Regions from separate parts of the Homo sapiens genome. Here region 2 is linked to region 1. A link means that fine-mapping ties the variant in region 1 to the expression of a gene that starts in the linked region. Tissue or cell type: whole blood. Region 1 holds a variant in brackets; the other region holds the start of a gene. All regions are shown on one strand. Distances are from middle to middle.

Region 1 (7,864 bases):
TTTTTGGTCTGTGTCCAGCTAGCACCAAGGAGTAGAAGTTCCAAGGAAGGAGATTTTTGGCTTGATGTCAGTCATAGCTTTCTGAAGATGGAATGAGCTGTTCATAAGAGAATATGATTTCCATCTTTAAGGTGCTAAGACAAAGGCTGAAGAAATGTGATGGTGATGGTTTTCATAATCTTCAAGCTCGAGCAGATGGTTGAGCTAAAAATACTTTAAGGTCATTCCCAAATCTGAAATACTTGGGTGTTTCCCAAAATGCTATTTTTAAAAAAGCCTTTTTATTTTTAGCCAACATTACTGATTACTCATTGTTATCTATGTGGGTTCCAGGACCTACTATTAAGCGACAGGGATGGTTCATAAAGAAAAATAAGACATATGCATTCCTCACATATGGTTGCCATTGACACATCAGACCATTTCATGCATAAACCAGGAAGAGGACAAACAAGGTCCATGTAACCTGTTGGAATAATTTGCTTCTTACTTATTTACTTATTAAAATTTTTTTTAATTTTTAATTTTTGTGGGTACATAGGAGGTGTATATATTTTTGGGGTACATGAGATGTTCTGATACAAGCATGTAATGTGTAACAATTATATCATGAAAAATGGGGTATCCATCCCCTCAAGCATTTCTCTTTTGTGTTACAAACAATCCAATTATACTGTTTTAGTTACTTTTAAATGTACAATTAACTTATTATTGATTATAGTCATCTTGTTGTGTTATCAATTACTAGGTCTTATTCATTCTTCCTATTTTTTTGTACCCATAGAATTTACTTTTTTCCTTCTCATGTCATTTTCTATGGCTCCTGGCTGTTTTAAATACAATTTAGCCTAATGCATTGACTGTTGTCAATTTGTGCATAAGGACAGCTACTTGGTGGGATGAACAGAATGAAAAGGATAATTCAATTTAGGGATTTGGAAATTATGAGAAGACAGGAATGTGAAATTATATTTTACTGATAATATTTTCATTATAAGATGCCCATTTTTCTGAGATATATACTCAGATTTCTTATGCATTCTTTCTTCAAAGGGATGGAGTTCCATGAAGAACTTCATAATTTGGGGGCAAAAGAAGGCTTGAAGGGAAGAAAACTCAACAAAGCAACTGAGAGCTTTGCTTGGAACATTACAGTATTGAAGGTAGATGAAACACTCAGATGTCCCCTGTGCCTTTACTTTTCTTCTCCTCATCTCTCCAATGTGTAGAGAAATGTAAAGGATTAAATATGATGGTTTGGATTTTTAAACCTTCACTTTAGATTCAGGGTTACATGTGCAGGTTTGTTATATAGGTAAACTGTGTGTCGCGGGGGGCTGGAGTGCAGATTATTTTGTCACCCAAGTAATAAGCACCTAGTATGCAATAGGTAGTTTTTTGACCCTCTCTCTCCTCCCACCCTCCATCCTCATGTAGTCCCTGGTGTCTGCTGTTCCTCTCTTTGTGTCCATGTGGTCTCATTGTTTAGTTCCCACTTATAAGTGAGAATATATAGTATTTGGTTTTCTGTTTCTGCATTAGTTTGCTTAGGATAAAGCCCTCCAGCTCCATCCATGTTGCTGCAAAGGACATGATCTTATTCTTTTTTATGGCTGTGTAGTATTCTGTGGTGTATATGTACCACATTATCTTTATCCAGTCCACTATTGACGGACATGTAGGTTGATTCCATGCTTTGCTATTGTGAATAGTGCTGTGACAAACAGACATGTCCATGTGTCTTTATGGTAGAAGGAATTATATTCCTTTGTGTATATACCCACTAATGGGATTGCTGGGGTCAAATGGTAATTCTGTTTTAAGTTCTTTGAGAAATTGTCACACTGCTTTCCACATGGCTGAATGAATTTACATTCCCACCAGCATTGTATAAACATTCGCTTTTCTCCACAACCTTGCCAGCATGTGTTATTTTCTGACTTTTAGCTATTCTGACTGTGAGATGGTATCTCACTGTGGTTTTGATTTGGATTTCTCTAAGGATTAGTGATGTTGAACACCTTTTTATATGCTTGTTGGCCGCGTATATGTCTTCTTTTGAAAAGTGTCTGTTCACGTCCTTTGCCTGCTTTCTAATGGGGTGTTTATTTTTTTGCTTGTTAAGTTCCTTATAAATTCTGAATGTTAGACCTTTGTTGGATGCATAGTTTGCAAATATCTTCTCCCATTCTGTAGGTTGTCTGTTTGCTGTCTTGATAGTTTCTTTTGCTGTGCAGAAGTTCTTTAATTAGATCCCACTGTCAATTTTTGTTTTTATTGTAATTGCTTTTGGTGTCTTTGTCATGAAATCTTTATTAGGTCCTATGTCCAGAATGGTATTTCCTAGGTTAACTTCCAGAGATTTTATAGTTTTAGGTTTTACATTTAAGTCTTTAATCCATGTTGAGTGATTTTTGTATATGGTACAAGGAAGAGGTCCAATTTCAATCTTCTGCACATGACTAGCTAGTTATTCCAGCACCACTTATTGAATAGGGAGTCCTTTCTCTATTGCTTGTTGTTGTTGACTTTATTGAAGCTGAGATGGTTGTAGGTGTGCAGCATTATTTCTGAGCTCTCTATTCTGTTCCATTGGTCTATATGTCTGTTTTTGTACCAATGCCATGCTGTTTTGATTACTGTAGCCTTGTAGTATCGTTTGAAGTTGGGTCAAGTGATGGCTTCAGGAATGTGTGGCTTGATCTCTAGGTTCATACTCTAGGAGATGGGGAGCTGCATACTGGAATTAACATGGTTTTTGCCTTAATAAGGCAATGAGGTTTTCGGTGCAGGCAGGGTACAGCCCATGTGTGAGATTAATTTGCCTGGTGTGTGTGTGTGTGTGTGTGTGTGTGTGTGTGTGTGTTTACTCACATGAATACTTACGTTCAAGTCAATATGGCTGTTCTTGTTTGTGGAAAGAATAATGACAAATGCTTCTGGGGAAGATTCCAACACAAATGATTTTGAAGAGACAAAGTACAAAATATCTAGGGCCATTGAGGATTTTTATTTTAAGAACAGTTCCTATAAATACATTTCTTTTTGCAAATAACTTTGGAAGTCATTTTCTTGAGATTATGATTTGCTCTCTGCTGCACATGAATTTTAGAATTTTGAAGTAAATATGCCACTTTTTATATTTTCTTACATGAAAAAAGAAATGATTTAGGCAGACAATATATTCTTGACAGCTAAATGGGAGAAAAATAGCTACAAACAAAATTAATAATTGCTGACATTTAAAGAACACTCATTTTGTGCTAGGTACTGTTTTATGAGGTTTATATGAATTAACAATTTAATACTCACACCAACTCAGTATCGTTATTAATCTCATTTTACAGGTGAGAAAACGGAGGCATTGGAAGTCTGTGTATATTTCCTGAGGGCGCTCAGCTAGTAAATGGTGTAACTAAATTTTAAGCTCAGGCAGTCTGGCTCCAGACCCTGTGTCTTTAACCTGTGCTGCAGAGATGCTGCACATGTTTATGTGAAAGTGTTAGGTTAGCTGTAAGACATATTACAAATGTCTATTAAAAATTCAGTCCACAAGTGATAAGCCCCTACTATGCATTGGGCTCTGTGCTAGGCACTGGGAATACGTGGAGAACATGAGATACAGACCCTGACCTCATGAAGTTAGCAGTCTGAGTCCAGTGGAGGAGGGGGATGGATAAGGCATCATTTGCTTAAGGAGCAGGGATGACCTAGAGCTGTAGTGTTAAAGAGGTGCTTATTATAACCCTAGATTATAATGTGGCAGTGTGTACCCTGATATAAACATTTTATGTTCAGAAGATTTTATATGGGCTTGTTAATGTGCCTGTCACAGAAAGGTGCTAGGGATACAAATATCAGGAGGATTACCTGGGTCTCCAAGACTAGTCTATAAGGAGAGACAGACATGTAACTAATAATGGCCATCAATTGTTCAGCACTTATTTTGTGATCAGCACTCAAGGCTAGGTACTTTATGTACATTTCCCCTTTCTTCCTTGCCACAACAGTGCAATCTTGCAACATGACATGCTGACTCTGATAGGACTCTCTCCATCTCACAAATGAGGAAATTGAGGCTTGTGGGGGTTGAAATTTCTTGCCTGGAGTCACACAGCTAGTAAA[C/T]AGCCAGCCTGCAATTTTTAACTCACGCCCATGGTTCTATCCACTACACTGTTCTGCCTCCTCTAAAACTCCATCCATGTGGCTGAGTCCCTGTATTAGTCTTTTCTCACGCTGCTAATAAAGACGTACCCGAGAGTGGGTAATTAATTTATAAGAGAAAGAGGTTTAATTGTCTCACAATTCAGCATGGCTGGGAGGGCCACAGGAAACTTACAGTCATGGTGCAAGAGGAAGCAAACATGTCCTTTTTCATATGGCAGCAGCAAGGAGAAGTGCTGAGCAAAAGGTGGAAAAGCCCTTTATAAAACCATCAGATCTTGTGAGAACTCACTCACTATTATGAAAACAGCATGAGGATAACCTCCCTTATGATTTGATTACCTCCCACCAGGTCCCTCCTACAACACGTGGGGATTGTGGGAACAACAATTCAAGATGACATTTGGGTCCAAACCATATCAGTCCCATTGGGTCCAGGCAGCCTAGTGCAGGAATAAGAATGCAGGCCCTGTGTGATTACCTGATAGTGGTGAGACTAGCCAAGTTATATAATCTCCCTCAGGGTAGTAATAATACCTACATCTCAGATTTTGTGAGAATTAAATGAGATAATACATACAAAAGATGTAAGTCACAGTGCACAAAACTAGACAGCATATATGTTAGCTGTTATTTGTTTGTTTGCCAGGTGAGGATAAACATGGAGAAATGAGGTTTTTGTTATTTTTATTTCTTTGTTAACTTCTGACTTAAGCCCACTTAGTGTTGTCAGAGATTTCTTAATGTTTTTGTTTGGTTTAGTAACAGAAGCTGATTGTTAGATGTGATTGAGCAAATGCTGTTCAAATTATTCCAAGAGAGAGCTTTTCAGACAGAATTGATTTTCTATTATTATAACTCACATACTAGCTGCTGGTATTTCAGCTTGAGCACTAGAGTAGTGGACTACTACTAAACAAGAGTAGAGAACATTTCCACACTTCCAATAGCTCCTTTTTCTCCTCCATTGAGTTTGGGGCCTGTTAATCTGGTGTCCTTTCCCCAAGAGCTGGACAAATGACCTCCTTTGAATTTGAATTATTAGCTGAGAGAAAAAGAGCCTGGGCTCTGTTGGAGACTTTTTATTCCAGTGGTGCTGCTCTAAGAAGATATCTTTTTCTATACGATTCTTCCTTTAGTTCTTATGCATTAGATCTGAAACACTTGATTCCCAATTAATTCTCCAGACTTGCTATTGATTTTCAGAGCTCCTCTAAGTATTTTAATAAATGCTCTTTGTTTATAAGTTTAGTAGATTCAATTTACCTTGCTTCCAGTTGGTTGAATGATTAATAACCATCCTGGAAAGACATAATCACTGAATTAGGAGGCTGTGGTACAATTCTGCGTTGCCTACTGAAAAAGTTTCCTTATACATGATTTAGACTAGTATTCCCTACTATCTAGAGAGAGGGAGTGGGAATTAACCAATTCTGGTTAAATGTGTTGGTTTGTATTTCTAAAAATATTTAATTCCAGTGTAATTTCCAATAAGTAAGGAAGGAGCTGGAAAAAAATGAGAAATGTGCCCTCAGCAAGTTGGGGGATTGACAGCATGGAGTGGTGCAAAGGGGCATTGGCTTTAGAGTAAATTGAGCTGAGACTGAAAAATAAATTGTTTAGTGTTTTCTGCAGTTCAATATTACATTTATCTGATATTAAAAGCTGGAGAAAAAAATTGCAGAAAGAAAAATGACTAACGACAATATAATGAATAAGAATTATAATTACAGTGTCCAAATTGTTGCAGAGACCAGGACTTAGTATTTAGCAAGGAAACTGAAATCAAGGTGCTTCTGGAAGATCCCACACTTGTGTTTTTCTTTAATTCATATTCTAGCACCTACGTGGGTCCAGTATAGGGACTTGTTTAGCGTATCTTTTGCATTTTTCCATACTTTTGCCATATGTCTATATCCAACTGTAGCAGTCAATTTGCTCTTCCTTTCTTTCTTTTTCACTATTGTACATGAAATTGGTCTCCTTACATAGCCATTGTGTTTATTTAGGATGATAGGATGATTCAGTCCTCACTACCTTTTCAAGACAATCACTGGATCAAAATAACTCCATTCCATTCCACCCTCACATGTTAAAAGACCTTTCCCTCTGTTTCTTCTCCATGATGTCCTTCTTGTGCTGATATAATAAAATACCTGAGACTGGGTAATTTATAAACAACAGAAATTTATTTCTCACAGTTCTTGGGGCTGAGAAATCCAAGATCAAGGCAGGAGTGGATTTAGTGTCTGGTGAGAGCACAGTCTCTTCTTCCAAGATGGTGACTTCTTGCTTCGTCTTTCAGAGGGGAGGAACGGTGTCTCCTCAAATGGCTGAAGGGAAAGAAAGGCAAAAGAAGGTAAAAGGGCCTAGCTAGTTCCCTCCAGCCCTTTTACAGGGCACTAATCACCTCCTAAAGGCCTTACCTCTTGATATTATTGCATTGGGGATTAAGTTCCAACATGAATTTTGGAAGGGACACAAACATTCAAACTATAGACATTTGGTTGTTAACATAATATTAAAATCTCAAAATGGAAATTTTTCCTGTTTTTTAAGGCTTTCAGAAAGGGATACTACAACTTCACTTACGTAGCCAACATATTCTAGTACATTGTTAGTAATTTTGGAAGTGTTTCACTCATGAGAGTTCTGAAGATCTCTTGGGAGCAAGATGTGGAATTACACTATATCACTGATAAAATGCTATTTGCAATGAAGTGGAATTCATCTAAAGTCTTGAACTCTATCCAGAGTGATTTGACTTTTTAAGTACAAAAAGAACTGCATTGTAAAGGTGATCACATCTATAAAACTGAAATTAGAAAGAACCCAAGGGGAGCATTTTAGTGAGCTTTCCCAATATATATTTTTCTAACTTGTCCTGTTGGCTATTTTAAGAAACTAAATTTTATTACTTTGTGTTTTTAAAAGTTTTATGTAAAAATCAATTTTAGCAGGCTGGAGAAGTATCAAGTAGAGATATATAAAAATAATATTAAAGAAATATAATTAATAAATATTTTATTACAAAGGAAAAACTATGAAGTAGGTAATCACTAGAGCTTAAAGAGAAATAAAAGGGTTAAGAAGTAGCTGCCCTTCTTATTTATTCATGACTTTCATTGATTACTTGTTGAATAACAGGCAATAAATAAAAAATGAATATAACTATTACCTCTTCAATGGTCATTCCTATTAAATATGTATTTACACTTTTCCTGGATAGATTTCCAACTTATAATTTAATGCATTCCAATGTGTGCCATGATTCTGGGCTGCTTTTATAAATTTATGTTTAGTATATGTGACTATTACTTTTCCCCATAACGCTTTTGCTTTTTATCACTACTTAAGCCTTTGCTCCTTCTGCTTTTATCTAAAACATTTTCAATTTCCGTGGGAAGAGCAGAGATTGAAGCTTCTCACTTCTCCGTGTGTAGTTATGTTTCTAACCCAGGCAGATTCCCTCACTGAATTCCCGAATTTCAGGACCTTACAGTTCTGGGGAATCTTGCTACAACAGAGGAAATTACATGGATGTCAGTGTAGAAATACGCTTTCAATTAGAGCCTGAAAACACATTTGAAGTCTCTGTTCATTGTTGAGAGACAAAAGAAAGGAAACAGATGATGGGCTAATGGGAAAAGAAGTATGAGGAGAGGCATCCATCTCTGAAAGCTGAGTGAGAGTGAGAAGT
Region 2 (7,864 bases), 300 kb before region 1:
TGATGACATAAAGGTCATGTTGATGTTGAGAGAGGAGGTTGTCATGGTTAATATGAGTGGTCCCAGATCTGAAGGAGTGGCTCTTCATTCTCCAGGACAGCTACTGGACTTGTATCTTATGAGAGCTTTGGGTAGCAGGAAGAATGCAGGCTTTGAAGTCACTAACATTGCCTCAAATGCTGGTTCTTTCACTTCCTAGTTGGCTCTAACTTCAAGCAAGCTACTTGACCCTTTTGATCCCCAGTTTTCTTATCTGTGAAGTGGAGATCAGAATACTGCAGAGAGGATTATCTGGTACATAGAAAGCAGTTATCAAAGAGATAGTTCTTTTCCCCCCACTATGACTTCCTGGTAGTATATGGAAAGTCTTAATATTCTCACTGGTTTTTTCTCAGGCCCAGGGTTCTGGACTTCCCTGGCTGGAAGGACTATATTGACATATCTAGTCTTTTAGTCTGGTCTAGGTATTTTCAGGACTGCTAGAACTTGCTTAGTTCTTATTGGTTGTATTTCAGTCTAATTCTAGATTTCAAGTCATTCCAATTAATAAGTGCCCTTCTTCTGAGATTTGTAGCTGCTTGGTGTGGATCTGTTCTGATTTCTGCTCTAAAATGGAATTCTAGGATCCTTGAGGATGAGAAGTTCTACCATGCAGACAGTGACAGAACCATTTTTCTTTATCAGATTGATTATTTTATTTAGTCACAGGACTGCAAAAGTCCTCTGTCCATAAATATTTATTGAGCACTTACTCTGTTCCAGACATAGTTCTGGGAGCTGGAGATACAGCAATGAATAAAATCGCAAGGTCTTTAGGCACATGGAGATGGCATTCTACATTTCAGTGAAGCAGAGATAGGGGGAAAGTAAAACAGAATATGTAAGTAAACAATTCCACGGAAAAGACAGTTTGTTCACAGTGATAAAATCCTGTGAGAAGACAAAACACAATATGACTGACATGTACTGAGGCTTGTAGGGGCAACTTGAGATTTGTAGTTAGAGAGTCCTTTCTGACGTAGTAACATTTGAATTTCCTGCTCGTTACTATTATTCATATCTTACCTTCCTACCCCTGCTCACCCCCAAATTCCAATCTGCCAATCTAGCAATTGTCACCATGACTTGGTAAAAGGTTGGGAGGCAAGAATTGTAGGTGACAGCTATTTGGAAAGAGGGACTGTTAATGCAGGGGTAGGAATGTGCCCATGGCTGCTGACTTAACTGAAACTAGCTAGTCTCTTTCAGTTTTTGAAGTGGGTCCACAAAGCAGAATCTGCTCCTGGCTAGGAGCAAGTACATAGGAGGGGTTTTTTTTTTTTCAATTGCAAACATGAGTATCAGGAAAAGCCTTCTGAGCTTATGCTGGAACACAACAATATAAACGACTTGCTAGATTAGGGTCCAACTAGTTTATCAAAGCAGAGTAATTTAGACAACAATCTTTACGGATAGAGGCTCAGAGCAAAGGAATCAGAGGGGTGTGTGTGTGTGTGTGTGTGCACTTTCACATGAGGGTGAGAGGGAAGGATGCCAAGGAAGAGAAAAGAGTCCAACTAGACATTGTCTAGTTGAAAGATACAACATTTTGCAAGTTATATGCTGTACTTTCTGGCCTCTGTTTTTTTTTAAATCACTGACCTTGAATGTTTGTTAATAAAGTGATGCTAATTTTAAAATTTGTAAAAATAAATTATTATCATAATGGTACACAAATCTGTAGGATGAGGAACTTATAAATGACATTAATATCCTATAACAAGATAATGAGTGAGATAAAGGCAGTTTTACATTTTTCAGAGGACAACCGAAGAATGGGACTTTTATTAGAGTAACAAAGAAAAATGAAGCACTGACAACTGTAAATGACAGAAGTCAAATGTAATAATAGTTGAATATCAAAGAAAAAAATGATAGCCTAAAATAAGATATATTTCTGAGGATAGCAATTAAAAATATTTCCTATATAGCATAGACAGGAATTCCCTGAACTAAAGGAGATGGAAGACATGTATGGTTGTTTTAAGTCTGGGTACACTTTATTTTCTTCCTCTAGTCTGTGCGTTGTAAAGGCATACCTGTTGAAAAGGAAACTTTTGTTGGGTTACCCCTCCTGTCTTTTAAAGATGAGGGGGAAAAAGAAGCCTTTGCTGTTATGGATGCAGTTCTCAGAATCTCACTAGAGGGTGGTGTTGGTTCTAAAACCAGAGGTCACTGCTACTCTCTACAGTACATTCATTACTAGGCTGCATTTATGTTTAAAGAAAAGGCAAAGTCAAGCCTTCTCAGTATTCCCTAGTAGTTGATAAATGTCAAATCTGAAACCTCCCAAGTGCCCCTGCCAGTTCTGGCTGGTTGTAGCCCAGAGGAGACAGATAAAGTAGTGAAGAGATTATCGGAGGAGTTGGGTGGCTGATTCTAATTTTGGCTCCTGCACTAACTAGTAGACAAGACTCCCTGGGCCTTTGTCTCAACCGTAAAACAAAAATGATGTCCTAGTTGATCCCTAAATCCCCATATATCTCTAAAATTATGAGATTCAAACCAAATTGTTGGTCTAAAATGCTGAATAATTTCTCATGCTGTTAGCCAGACTAAGGAACAAGTAAAATCTCAAATTATTAAATTATTAATAAGATAAAATGTAATGTTATAAGTGAGGTTTAATATAGATTCTAATATCAAAGGAGTTTAAAATTAAAATGCCAAGTCTTTTGTCTTACCAGGGAGCCTTAGGACCATGGTTTGCATCTGAGCATTCTGTGGATAATTTCAGTGACTTAACTCATCATCCAAAGATCTCTCCCTTCTTGGTTGCTAGCTTACTGGAAATGAGCAAAATATGTTTTTATATAGGATTATATAGAGAAAGGAGGCTGAACCATTGTCAAATAGGAATGTTTTAGGATAGAGACTAAACTCCCCACCTGCATTTATCTGACTTGGATTATATCTGTGCTTTTTAAGAGTCAGTCTTCGGAGGGATTTAGTTGGTTCAGTTTCCTTTCACCCTCATCTCTTTCACTGACTCCCTTTCCTTGTTATATTTACTCACACTGCAGAATGACCTTAGAATCCTTTCCTGGAACCTGAAGCAAATTATGGAACCCCAAGATCCCAGTAAACCCTAGTTTATCTCTGCATGGACTTGACTTCTAAGAATTGGCCTGAGAGCCTGCAATTAACCTGTGACCACGCAAAGCTTCACCCCGTCACCCCAAACGCTTAGACATTCATACTCAATACCCACTTTCCTCCAAATTGCTTTGTTTGGCAGAAGAAGGTTTCTTTCTCCCCTCTCCTTCACCCAACCTGGATTTTTGTTGCATCTCAGGCTCATTTCGCAAATCTAAACTTCCTAAAATATACACGGAGCGCCTCCGGGTTTGCACACGCGCGCGCGCGGGTACACCCTGGCTCGAGTACATTAGCCCCGCTGGGCCGGCTCCCAGTTGCAGAACACATTCCATTCTTCGCGCTCGGGCACACCCCTCCGCAGTGAGGATTGGTCGGGCCGAGCCCCCTCGGCGAGGCGAGGCTCCTAAGAGGCCCAGACGCCTGCCAATCCCCAAGGGCTGTCAAAACAAGTCTCCCTCCCTGTCACAACAGAGCTGAGTGGAGGCCGCCGCCGCCGCCGCACTTCCTGGGACCGCTGCGCCGCAGTCCGCGGGCAGGTGGCGGGTGCGCCCGGCCGCAGTCGCCCGGCTCTGGCCCCTATCGGGCCGCCGGCGTCCGGGCTCCAGAGGCCGCCTGGCTGGGCGCCCGGTGCCTTTTGTCTGGCGCAGGGCCGGCGTTTGCATCACATTTCGGATACCTCCCTCTCTTTTTCGCCTCTCCTTCTGCCTCCCGCTCACATCGCCTCCCCACTCCCGCCACCGTCCCCCGCCGGACTGCTAGCCTCCTAGACCGAAGCCCGAGGACGTCTCTGCCCGAGCGATGTCCCCTCTCCAGAAAGTTGCCGCCGCCGCCGCCGCCGCCGCCACTGCCGCCGCTGGGCGGTGAAACAAAGTCTGGCGGGGCCGCCTCCCGGTGCAGGAGCGCACCGGTGCCTAGCGGCTGGACTCCGCTGCCGGGCGTCCCGCTTTCCCCCGGGGAGCCCTAAACGCTCCAGGCCATGGCCGAGGGCGCGGCCGGCAGGGAGGATCCGGCGCCGCCCGACGCGGCGGGGGGCGAAGACGACCCCCGAGTGGGCCCGGATGCCGCCGGGGACTGCGTGACGGCGGCCTCTGGGGGCCGGATGAGGGACCGTCGCAGCGGGGTCGCACTGCCAGGCGCCGCGGGGACCCCAGCGGACAGCGAGGCGGGCCTCCTGGAGGCAGCACGGGCGACCCCCCGGCGCAGCAGCATCATCAAGGTAAGCAAAGCCGCGCCGCACCGGGAGCGTGGCTGTGGGTGATGGGTGGGTCAGGGACCCGGGCAGGATGTGCGGTGTCCGGAGGCATCCGGGCTCAGCATTGTTTTCTCCCACCTCCTTCAACGCCAAACCTTCCTTCCTTATCCGGAGGTTCCCAGACTCAGCTGTCAGCCACGAGACGCACAAGTGACTTTTTCTCCCCACTGACGGCAGAGGAAAAGTTCCGCTCTGCGTCTTTGCGTTCTGATGGATGCTTTCCCTCATTTTCTCTGCAAGCTTCACTAAACCGTTGATGGAGGGAGGAAGGGAGAACTCTGGATAAATGCAGACCCACCGGATGGTTGTGCATTGCTTTCCAATGAAGGGTTAGCTTTTCCCATACAATGAAGAAAATGCACAGCTTACTCTCAAGTGTAAAAAAAGAATCCCTCTAGACTTAAATGATCCCGAAATCCCAAGATGTGTGAACTTTCCCGGTAGGGAGGCAGAGTTTTAAGTGGACCCTGCATCACAGTAAAGAGCAATGCAAGAGCCCAGAGTTTTTGCGCTGCAGAAAGCACAACCGGAAAGCAATCAATCCCCCAAGCATTATCACTGGTCCTTGTGGTTACCACCACATCCAGGGAAAACGCTTCCTGACCCGCTAATCACCTCACAGAATTTCTCTCCATCCATTTGGCAAGGAATTTGTAAACCTCTTTCCTCCCCTTTCTCTTTCCATCTTCCTTCCACTTGGGGCTTGTTTCTTCTGTTCGAGATTTCCTCTTTTGGGAGCATGACTTTGGGGTAAGGTTATTTAGGAAAGAACCCTCGCACAGGCTCTGGAAAAGGGCCTCAGTGTAAATGCATGTGAGTAATCAATCAAATGTATGTCAGATTAAAATTGATTTTGGTGGAGCAGTCAGTATAAAACGATATGTATGTATGTATATATGTAAGTATATATGTGTGTGTGTACATACACACACACACATCCCTCAATGACAATGAAAGATGGACTTTTACTTACTATTGAATTTATTGGGTTCACTAATATATTCAAAAGCTCTGTTCAGGGTTAAGCTGCGTAACCAGTGCATCACGCATGTTGCAAGCTCCCAGCACCAGCTTAGGTAGACTAACCACAGAATGTGGCTCCAGTAAAGTCTTTTTCCCAACACTGACACATGGAAGTTTAAAATCAGTGGAGAGGTTTCTATAATATATAAAGAAGAGTGGGTGGTAATTACAAATGGCTTGTAGTAGTTTCTGTTATTTTGTGGCTTTTTGATTATGTAACAGGAGTGTTCTATTCTGGGTGTGAATTTGGACAAAGGGAAATTACTATTTTGTTTTTAACCCACAGGTCAGAAAGCACACTGTTTTCAAACTTAAAAAACATCACAATTAGGAAACACATACATTTTGGATTCTACTGTATTGATACTACATGGTGTCCTGTGTGTGTAAAACAGGCACTGCAAGAGACTTTAAAATATATGACAATAAAGAGCAAACGGCTCTATAATGTTGTAAAAAACAAAAGTAATGGAGTATAAGGAATATACAAATTCTTGCAACTGAGTTTGCCACTTGTGAATTGTACTATGCTGGTTTATATTCTCAGAAGGGTCATTGCTGAGTAATGGTGCCTCTTTTGTTTTGAAGTTTCTTTTTGTGACAAAAAAGGAGGGAGACAACAGAATATTAACTTGATTTTTCCCCTATTTAATAGTAAATGCAATTAACATTTGGTAAATGGCCTTTAAAATTAAAGATATTAGAAAATAAAGTGAATTATTATGTTAGGTTTTTATTGGAAAAGTAGCACATACATATAATTTAAAAAATCAAATGTTGCAAAGGAGTGTGAAGGAAAGACCCTCAGACACTCCACATTCCCACTTATGTAGTCCACCCTCATAGATGTTAACACTTTCTTATGTATGCTTCCAAAATATTCCATGCATGTGTAAGCAGATATATCTATATGTGTCTATGATGAACTATAGCAGCTCCTGATTTCTACAAAAAAATCTGGCTAGAGTTTTACAAGTCTCATAGTTTTAAGCATTTTTGAAGCCTAGAGGGGGTAATCTGGTAGGTCTTTGGTGGGCAGCAGTCATTGGGGTCTGTTCCCAGAGGCCTTAACGCCCTTCTAAGGAGAAAAAAAGGCAGGTGGTAAGCTCTGTTCCACTCCGTCTCTGAGATCAAGAACCTTTCTGGTGACATTCTTGAATCTGCTGCCCTGTGGTTTGTTCCCTTTAGCATAGTAAAAATGAGTTTCCAAAAAAAGTTTAGATCATATAAGAAATACATAGCACATGTTCTATATTGAGAGAAAATGCATTTTTCACAGTTTTGCCAAGAGATTTTTTTTTAAATTTGGCATTGAAATGTACACAAAGAAGAAAAGCTTTAGTACATTTTAATCAAAATATTAAATGCTGTTCCAAATAGCTGTAGTGCAGTAATAATTGATATTCATAATGCTGAGCCACTGAAAGGTTGTGAATCATCAAATATTAAATTCTTGTCAGCTCAATTTAAGGTATTGTTTCAGAATAGTGCTATCCTGACAGAAAACAGACTGTCTTGTATATTAATAAAAAGAATGTTTTTAGTAAATTTGCCCTCCATAATTTGTGAAAACATGTGTTTAGTTGAAAAAACAATTTTCTTCTGAGCTGAGGAAAACAATGACAACATTTATCTGTATGCATCTTCAGAAATTCTTTCTACTGACATTGTGTTTCTTCCCCACATATAACCAATCCTAGGTTTAAAAACGTTCAATGTGAGAATTAAACTAAGTTTTTTTAAAATCTGTCTACTTTTTCCTATATTTTTCTGTGTGATTGTTTCAACAGCATTGACATTGATAAATGCTGCATGTTTTTTGGTAAGCGCATTGTTATATACCACAATAATGCAATAGAATCCATTTTAATTTCTTCTTGATGACTTGTGGTTTGAAATGACAAGTTGGATACCTGCAGTATTGATAATCTCTAAAAGTTGTTTACTATTCTGCATTTGAATATATTTCTAATTAAGAAATAAGACCATTTATTTATCTGGTATTTGATATCAAACTTATAGCATTTAAAATATTTAACATTTTAGATTATTGCTTATAGCCCTATAATCTGCTGCCCTGTGGTTTGTTCCCTTTAGCATAGTAAAAATGAGTTTCCAAAAAAAGTCTAGATCATATAAGAAATACATAGCAAATGTTTTATATTGAGAGAAAATGCATTTTTCACAGTTTTGCCAAGAGTTTTTTTAAATTTGGCATTGAAATGTACACAAAGAAGAAAAGCTTTAGTACATTTTATATTAATCAAAACATTAAATGCTGTTCCAAATAGCTGTAGTGCAGTAATAATTGTAATGTTTTGGAAATAGGAAGCAGCATAGCTTATTTACTATATTAGTTGGTGGAAACTGAGCTACATGTGTATTTTAAAAATAGCAGTTGATTTTTCTTCCATTGTATGTGACACATTGACGGGTTCTACTTTTTTTCAA

Evidence for each region. PIP is the estimated chance that this variant, and not a neighbour inherited with it, causes the effect.
Region 2: PLCL1 starts here. The variant in region 1 is fine-mapped to the expression of PLCL1 in whole blood (TOPMed, PIP above 0.99).

What each region holds. Positions count from the first base shown.
Region 1 is chr2:198,102,774-198,110,637 of GRCh38, forward strand. PLCL1 (phospholipase C like 1 (inactive)) reads left to right here. Exons shown (of 6, transcript NM_006226.4): 5 at 1,054-1,163. Among named protein-coding and RNA genes, the nearest start is that of LINC01923, 270 kb to the right of the region's middle. The variant C/T (reference allele first, on the strand shown) is at 4,126.
Region 2 is chr2:197,800,986-197,808,849 of GRCh38, forward strand. It overlaps PLCL1 (phospholipase C like 1 (inactive)), which reads left to right and starts at 3,608. Exons shown (of 6, transcript NM_006226.4): 1 at 3,608-4,354. The coding sequence starts at 4,115. LOC105373828 (a long non-coding RNA gene) reads right to left here and starts at 3,561. Exons shown (of 4, transcript XR_001739850.3): 1 at 2,724-3,561; 2 at 753-834. RefSeq lists a silencer at 3,655-3,784.